Linked DNA regions of Homo sapiens: region 1 is linked to region 2. The links come from fine-mapping of genetic effects on gene expression. A gene starts in region 2. The other region holds a variant in brackets. All regions are shown on one strand. Distances are from middle to middle.

Region 1 (4,386 bases), 35 kb before region 2:
AGAGGAAATCTATGAGTATATATGCATTTATACACAAACACATTTAAATGGGAATATATATATACACATTGCAATGCATTGTGGTAAGTACTGCAAATGAGAATGGGCAGAACACATCATTGTGGGAGCATGCTCAGGCACTGGGAGTGGCTTCCTAGAGGAGGTGAATCTTGAAGGAGTTTGTCGTCTTGTGGAGTGGGGAGGAGGCTCCAGGTGGAGGAAGCAGTACAAGCAAAGGCCCAGAGGTGAGCAGGCGAGGGGTGTGGAGAGACACTATTACACCTTGCAGCTGGGGTATACAGAAGGGAACAGCAGGGTGGGGAAAGTCGGGAAGAGGTTGAGCGATGGAGCTGGGCAGAGGAGGGCTTTGTAAGCCTCAGAAGGAAGCTGGACCCTTTCCCTGGGAGCTCTGATATCTAATAATAATGGCAATGACAATGACAATAACCAACACCACCTGCCGCTTATCCTAGACTCAGTATATGCCAATGATTCTAACCTGTCCTCTTTTGAGGGTTATAATAAACCTATGAGGAGGTGTCATTAGCCCTTCGAGGATTGAACATGGGTTCTTATTGGCTGGTTGTTTGCCTCCAAGAAGCTCAGCTCATTGGGCGTGAACTTACAGGCAGTGTTCAGAGGCTTGTGGACACCCAAGGACTCTGGTATGGCCAACAAAGTGTTTGGTGGTAGCTGAATCTTCTTCAGGACAGTGAGGCAATGGTGGCTGACCAGGTCTGGGCCAGACTATGAGGTATCATCCTGAAAGGCTACCAGCAGCAAGAAGTCAGGGTCCACTGAAAAGTGGTTAAGTGTTACTAATATGGACAATGTTGACTGGGCACTTTCTAGGTACCCAGCACTGTGCTAGAGTTCCACATAGATTGTCTCACTGACTCCTCACTGATGCGGTAAGAACCCTCTGTTCCCATTTTACAGAGTAAGAAACTGAGGCTCACACAGGTTAAGTCACTTGCCCAAGGTCACATGGCTAGCAAGTGGCTGAACCAGGATTTGAACCCAGGACCATCTGAGCTCCAGAGTGTATCTGACCCCATAGACTACTGTCTCCCACACCTCAGTTTCCCTTCTCAAGAAGGAGGAATGGGGTGGATGCTCTGCGATGTCTCTTCTGCTGTGACTCTGGTTCTGTGATGCTGAGTGTCTGCAAGGTGCCTGGACCCATGTTCACCACCCACTTCCTCCTGCTTCAGGCTTTTCCATGTTGTGACCAAGCCTCAGTGGCTCTGACGCCTCTGGATGGCACCTGTGGTCAGAGCTCTCCAGCTATTTCTACTGATAGAACACTGCATGTCATTAGCTCAGTCTCCCTGCAACTCTATCACTGTCTGGGTGGGTGACCCTAGACCAGTCCCTTGTCCTCTCAGAGCCCCAGTATTCTCATCCAAGCCCTCCCTGACAGAGCTAGTGTTAAGCACTTGGCAGAGCTCTTGCAAAGCTCTGGGGAGGGGAGCCACGCTTCCTTTCCCATCCTCTGCACCAGGACTATCTTCCCATGAGGATATTTCTACCCATTTTCCAGAGGCAAACACTGAGGTCCAGTGAAACAAGGATTGTCCAGGAAACCCCATGCTTGCCCCTGGCAGACTGGGCTACAAAGGATTCTGGGTATGGCCCTGGGCTGCCACCTTCTTCCTTTTGGGGTGGGGCCAGCCCAGAATATGGGGATCCTCAAGAACACAGAGTTCCGAGGTCATGTGTCTCAACTCCCACATTTATAGGTGGGGAAACCGCATGAAGCTGGGACTGCCAGTTTCCCTACATGCTGGACCGCCAGGGGCAGCAGTGAGAGGGCTAGGGGAGGATGGGTTCCTTCATCCCCACTGTTAACCATCGTGCCAGGCACCTTTCTGGAGCTCAGGAAGTCCGCACTGCACAGGACGGCTGCCTAGAACCGCTGATGTTGCAAGGCAAGGGTGCAGCTGAAGCCCAAAGGGCCTCACATGTTGACAAAAAGCCTCAAGTATAACCTGATGGCAGTGGGGAGCCACAGAAAGGCTTAGAGCAGAGGAGAGATCTGGCCAGACTTGTGTGTGATTAGAAAGCACTCAACAGGAGGTTTGAGGGGAGATCACTGAGACTAGCAGACAGTGAGAAGGCTTTGAGGCCAGGCAGGCCAGAGCCAGAGCCAAGTGTGATGGAAATAAAGAGATTGATGGGGGCTGTCAGCATCTGACCCCTCCCTTTCCATGACTTCCCAGCCAGAGCCATGGAAATTCTCCGCCTGCCCCTTTAGCTGCTGACATCTCCTCACACCATCGCCTGATGGAACAAGACAAGAGGGAGGCTCAACATACTGGGGAAACTGAGTCAGGGGAGTTCTTTGCAGAGCTGGCTATTGCCTCAATGCACTTAATATTATTCTTATGGTGAACTGGTTCATATTACAAAGAACACTGAGAAGCATATGCCTGGGAGCCCACCACCCAGACTAAAGTATTACCACTTCTGCTTTTGATGCTCCTGCAGCCCCTCCTGGTCACAGGTCCCAGCCTTCCCCGACCCAAGGGTATCTGGGAATCTCAGTGTTGTGTTGGTTATTCCTGTGCTTTCAGCTTACCATATTTCTCCCTTATAAGATAGTGTTTAGACCAGGCACGGTGGCTCACACCTGTAATCCCAGCACTTTGGGAGGCCAAGGCAGGTGGATCACTTGAGGCCCGGAGTTCGAGACCAGCCTGGCTAACATGACAAAACCCCCATCTCCAGTGAA[A/C]ATACAAAAATTAGCCAGGTGTGGTGGCAGGTGCCTGTAATCCTAGCTATTCAGGAGGCTGAGGCAGGAGAATCGCTTGAACCCGGGAGGCAGAGGTTGCAGTGAGCAGAGATCATGCCACTGCACTCTAGCCTAGACAACAGAGCAAGACTCCACCTCAAAAAAAAATAGTGTTTGATTTTGCATGCTTTTGAACTCTTTCATGGCATGGTCCTTCATGTGTTCATTTGCAGCGTGCTTCTGCCCTCATTATGTTGGTACATGTAGCTGTAGTTCATTCATTTTCATAGCCATATAGCAAGGTTACTCAACCTCAGCGTGGTTGTGAGGGGCTACTGTGTGCATTGTAGGACATTCACCAGCAACCCTGGCCTCCACCCATTTGACGGAAGTAGTACCCCTGTCCCCCACTTTAAAAACTAAAAATATTTTCATACATTGCCGAATTGCCCTTGGCTAAGAACTACTGCTATCTTAGATCCATTGCATGCATATATTACCTTTACTTTTCTCCTGTTGAAGACATTTGTTTCTAGTTTTGTTTGTTTGTTCATTTGAGACTCTGTCACCCAGGCCAGAGTGCAATGGTTCAGTCATGGCTGACTGCAGCCTTAACCTCCCAGACTCACTCAAGTGATCCTCCTGCCTCAGCCTCCTGAGTAGCTTGGACTACAGGCTCTCACCACCTGTAATTTTTTTTTTTTTTTTTTGAGATGGAGTCTCACTCTGTCACCCAGGCTGGAGTGCAATAGCACTATCTCGGCTCACTGCAACCTCCACCTCCTGGGTTCAAGTGATTCCCCTGCCTCAGCCTTCTGAGTAGCTGAGATTACAGGCATCCACCACCACGCCCAGGTAATTTTTAGTAAAGACAGGGTTTCACCATGTTGGTCAGGCTGGTCTCGAACTCCTGACCTCAGGTGATCCACCCACCTTGGCCTCCCAAAATCCTGGGATTAAAAATGTGAGCCACCGTGCCTGGCCTTTTTTTTTTTTTTTTTTTTTAAAGAAAGATTGGTTCTCACTATGTTGCCCAGGCTGATCTTGAACTTCTGGCCTCAAGTGATCCTCCTGCCTCAGCCTCCTAAAGTGTTGGGATTTCAGGTGGGAGCCACCATGCCCAGCCTAGTTTTTGGGTTGTTTTTTTTTTTTCCTATAAGCAATGCCCTGTGGACCTTCTTATACGCGTGTCCCAACGCACATGAGTATGAACTTTGCTCACATCTATACCAAGACAGAGAATGTCAGGGTCACACAGTACACACAGGTTGGCTAGACAGTGCCAAAGTGCTTTCCAAAGAGCTGGGGCTAATTCTTACTCCTGCCAGAAGGATATGGGATGTGCCTTGCCCATCCTCGGTGATGTCTAGGGTTGTCACTCTGGTGGGCAAAGATGCTTGTACTTTCTTTAACCTGCTTTGTCTTTCTTGAGGCTCTGTATTAATTTATTCTCACCTGCTATGAAGAAATACCCAACACTGGGTAATTTACAAAGGAAAGAGGCTTGATTGACTCACAGTTCCGCGTGGCCAGGGAAGCCTCAGGAAACTTACCAATCACGGTGGCAGGAGAGAGAATGAGAGCCGAGCGATGGGGAGAGCCCCTTAGAAAACCATCAGGTCTTGTGAGAACTCACTGACGATGAGAGAAAC
Region 2 (4,386 bases):
AACTTCTGTTTTTCTCTTGGTGTATCAGTTTGAGAAGCTGCTGCTGACGCATCTTTAAGCTCACTGGTGTTCTCCTCGGCAGTCTCAGTCTACTTGTCAGCTCGGCAAGGGCATTTCTGTTACATTGTTTTTGACTTTTAATATATCTTTTAATTTTTTTTTTTTTTCTGAGACGGAGTCTCGCTCTGTCACCCAGGCTGGAGTGCAGTGGCGCAATCTTAGCTGATTGCAAGTTCCGCCTCCTGGGTTCACGCCATTCTCCTGCCTCGGCCTCCCAAGTAGCTGGGACTATAGGCGCCCATCACCATGCCCGGCTAAATTTTGTATTTTTAGTAGAGATGGGGTTTCACCGTATTAGCCAGTATGATTTCGATCTCCTGACATCGTGATCCGCCCACCTTGGCCTCCCAAAGTGCTGGGGTTACAGGCATGAGCCACTGTGCCCGGCCTTCATTTTTTTTCTTAAAGTGGACCCCTCTCTGCTTCTATTACCCATTTGTCCTTGCCAATGTCCTTGTCAATATTCAGAGATGTTTGGTCTTGATGTTGTCAACTTTTTCCACCAGAGCCCTTAACATATTAGTCATAGTTATTTTAAATTCCATGTCTGGTAATTTCAGCATCTGTGTCATGTCCCAGGCTGGCTCTGATGCTCCTTCTGACTGACTTTTTTTTTTCTTTTTTGAGACAGAGTCTCGCTCTGTCACCCAGGCTGGAGTGCAATGGCACGATCTCAGCTCACTACAGCCTCCGCCTCCTGGGTTCAAGCGATTCTCATGCCTCAGCCTCCCAGTAGCTGGGATTATAGGCGCGTGCCACCACGCCTGGCTAATTTTTGTATTTTTAGTAGAGACGAGATTTCACCATGTTGACCAGGCTGGTTTCGAACTCCTGACCTCGGGTGATCCGCCCGCCTCAGCCTCCCAAAGTTCTGGGATTACAGGCGTGAGCCACTGTGCCCGGCTCCTGACTGTGACTTTTCTTATCTTTTTTTCATGCCTTGTTGTTTTTCTGGAAAGCCAATCAGGATGTACTAGATAACAGAAACCGAGGTAAATAGGTATTAGGGTGAGGATTTATGTTACTCTGGCTGGGGCTGGGCTGTGTTTGACATTTTCTGTGGCTGTAGGAGCCCAAACCTCATGGCTGTGGCCCAGGCTCTGTGTCACTTCCACCTCTGTACACTCATCTGGAGCCCTGTGTTGATGTGTGACTATCACCCAGTTCTGAGTCCCAGCTGGGAAGTAGGCGCCATCGTGCCCTCCGATTCCATCCTGGCTCTGCCTATTCCCAGCTGTCTGTGCAGGAAGCCGTTGCAGGCCGCATTTCCCACCCTAGCAGCCCTCTGCTAGGTTCAGCCAATGAAAGCCACAGGTGGGAGTTGGAGGGGAAGTGGCAGGGAGAAGCCGGGGTATTTCTCCTCCTCTGTCTGTGCAGAATCTCTGACAGTGGCTATCTCCAGCTGTGGCCAGACAGGCCTTGTGAGGGTCCAGCTTTGACAAGGTGACCATAGCTCCTTGGCTCCAGTAACATCTGCTCTTCCTGCATCAAGGACCTGGGGACTGTTCCTACTGTTGCTGATCTCAAGGTTACTTCACTGAGCCCTGTATGGCTTCTTAGCCTCTTTGGCTTCAAGTCCCTGCGTTAAATTCCCCGTGTTTCAAATACTCAGAGATGTTTGGCTGTGCGGAGACCCTGACTCTTACACTGCACCTGTTCAGGCCAGAGCCACAGACCTCTGAGTGCTCCAGCCCTGCCGCATCTCATCCACCCCCAGCTCTGCCAGGAGCATGGGCCCAAAGACAGAAACATGATCCCCCAGGACAGTCCAAAGAGACCTGCAGAGGACGGATGTGTGCGTTGGGGCCATGAAGATGGAGTAGGAGCTCACTGGACAGAGAAGATGGGGAAGGACACTCCAGGGAGAAGCAAACGCTGAGGTCCACTTGAGAAAAATGCCTGGGTGGTTTTGGTGCTGTGAGATTCTAGGGTAGGTGAGACAGTGTGTGTGTGTTTGTCTGTGTGGGTGGTTTTGGTGCCATGAGATTCTGGGGTAGGTAAGACAGCGTGTGTGCGTCTGTATGTGTGTGGGGGGGTGGGGCGGGGTTGGGTCTGAATCTCCAGCGGGGGCAGCGGAACAAAGGGCTGGATGCCCATCCCAGGAGGTAGATTCATCAGTGCTCCCTATGCGAGAGTGGAAGTGGGGAGCCCCAGTGGGTCCTGGGCTGCAGGAGAATCCGCTGCCCCAGGAGCAGAGACTGGGAAGAAGCCCACAGTAAGGGCAAAGGGTGGACTGCGGAGACTGCTCCGTCCTCCCTCCCCACCCCTACGCCAGGTTTCACTTCTCCCTGAGAGTCCTGGGGCAACACCCCCTGTTCTTTCCCTCGCACCCCCATTTTTAAAATGTTACGTGGGAGCTTTCGGGGACGGGCTGCGGGCATCCGTTTCCCTAGCCCAGTGGGAGGTGGAACCGAAGCCCAGGAGTCCAGGCCTCTGGCCCTGCGCCTCCCTGGCTAAAGAGCGCCCTGTGGGGAGGAAGCAGGGCCCCAGGCGGAACCGGGAAAACACACCGGGGCTTTAAACAGACCGGGCCACTCCCATCGAATTTGGAAAGCGGTTAAAAGAGGTCGTGCCGCATTCTGCGCCGCGTCCCTCTTCCTTCAGTCCCGCCGAGTGTCCCCGACCAGAGGTGACCTCCTAGAAGGGGAGGTCCCCAAACTCGAGGCCCTGCGTGTAGGGAAGGGGAGCGCCCGCCCCTTCCCTGCCGCCGCGAGCGCCCCGGGAGGGGACCGGGGCTGCCGTCCCTCCGCCTCTTCCCCCGCGGGGCGTAGCGATGGCCCGGGCCAGGGCCGGGGCGCTGCTGGCGCTTTGGGTGCTCGGGGCCGCCGCGCATCCGCAGTGCCTGGACTTCAGGCCGCCCTTCCGGCCGACGCAGCCGCTGCGCCTCTGCGCGCAGTACTCGGACTTCGGCTGCTGCGATGAGGGGCGCGACGCCGAGCTGACCCGCCGCTTCTGGGCCCTGGCGAGCCGCGTGGACGCCGCCGAGTGGGCCGCGTGCGCCGGCTACGCGAGGGACCTGCTGTGCCAGGTGAGCGGGCGCGCGGCCACCGGGCGGGGCGGGGCGCGGGAGGCCGAGTCCTGGAGCAGAGATCGGAACCCCGCGGGGGCGAGGGCCAAGAGTGGGCGGCGGACTCGGGAACTCTAAGCCCCAACAGGGAGTCATTTGGCACGGGGCGGGGAGACCGCGCATCCCAGGACGACTCTTGGCTTTGCCATTCATTAGTTTTGTGACTTGGGCCTTCTCGGGGCCTCAGTTTCCCCTCCTGAAGCAGGAAGGACGGACGGACGGACAGATGATGTCATCATTTCCTCAGAGGTTGGGGGCTCTTCTGCCCCAGTCCCCTGGAGTCGACCCCTCAGCGTCCCACCCCGAGCAGCTGCACCCTTGTCGGGGTACCAAGGTGGAGAGGCATCTGTCCCGGTCAGTGCTCCTTTGTGTTGTCCCCGGGGCAGTGAAAGCAGGGGGCCCTGGCGTGGGCGTGGTCAACGTGTGGCCCGGGTTTGTTGAGGGGGTTGGGGCCACTGTCCCCCACGAGCGTCTCACCCCCATCCTGATGCCCTTGCCACTTCCGCCACCACCTCTGTGGGTGCTGTGCCCTCTCCTGGGGATGGCGCCCTGGCCTGCAGAAGCTCTCTCAAGACTGAGCGACAGCTCTTTGTTGAAGCCCCTGGGCCCCCCATCTTCCCTCTGAGGGTGGAGCCCCTGCTTCTGTGCACACCTGGTGGTGCCACCGCTATTTGTTTTCCTCTTGTGGGAGTCTGAGGCCCCAGGGCCTGACCACACCCAAGTGGGCAAATGTTGCCTGGCTGAATGCAGAAATGGAGCAGGACGGGCAGCCCCAAGGCATTCCTGCCTCAGCATCTGGGCAGTGAGAGGCCTGGGGTGGAGAGGCCCCAGGGGCCAGGGCCGTGTCCCAGCCTTCGGCCAGCAGGGGCAGGTGGTGTGGGGAAGGGCAAGAAGGCTGACTTGGAGTTGGAGTTTGATCCTGGCTCTGTCACTTCCCCAGCTTCGTGACCTGGGCAGGTCACTGCTGCACCTCACAATATCTTTAAAATGAAGCTGAGTATGGTGGCTTATGCCTGTAATCCCAGCACTTTGGGAGGCCAAGGTGGGCAGATCACTTGAGGTCAGGAGTTCGAGACCAGCCTGGCCAACATGGCGAAACTCCATCTCTACAAAAATACAAAAATTAACTGGGCATGTTGGGGAGCTCCTGTAATCCCAGCTACTCGGGAGGCTGAGGCAGGAGAAGCACTTGACTCTGGGAGGCAGAGGTTGCAGTGAGCCAAGATTGAGCCACTGCACCCCAGCCTGGGCAACAGAGC

Direction of the effects. Alleles are on the strand shown, and positions count from the first base shown. SD is a standard deviation of normalised expression in the study named.
In carriers of allele A in region 1, the expression in fetal neocortex of the gene that starts at base 2,755 in region 2 tends to be lower than with C alone (moderate effect, 0.64 SD a copy in Walker 2019).

The links. PIP is the estimated chance that this variant, and not a neighbour inherited with it, causes the effect. A credible set is the group of variants that fine-mapping cannot tell apart.
Region 1: its variant is the best candidate, but not a certain one, in a credible set for the expression of HHIPL1 in fetal neocortex (Walker 2019, PIP 0.89).

Annotation. Positions count from the first base shown.
Region 1 is chr14:99,607,868-99,612,253 of GRCh38, forward strand. It overlaps a transcript of HHIPL1 not described here. Among named protein-coding and RNA genes, the nearest start is that of CCDC85C, 5.9 kb to the left of the region's middle. The variant A/C (reference allele first, on the strand shown) is at 2,735.
Region 2 is chr14:99,642,375-99,646,760 of GRCh38, forward strand. HHIPL1 (HHIP like 1) reads left to right here and starts at 2,755. Exons shown (of 9, transcript NM_001127258.3): 1 at 2,755-3,088. The coding sequence starts at 2,834.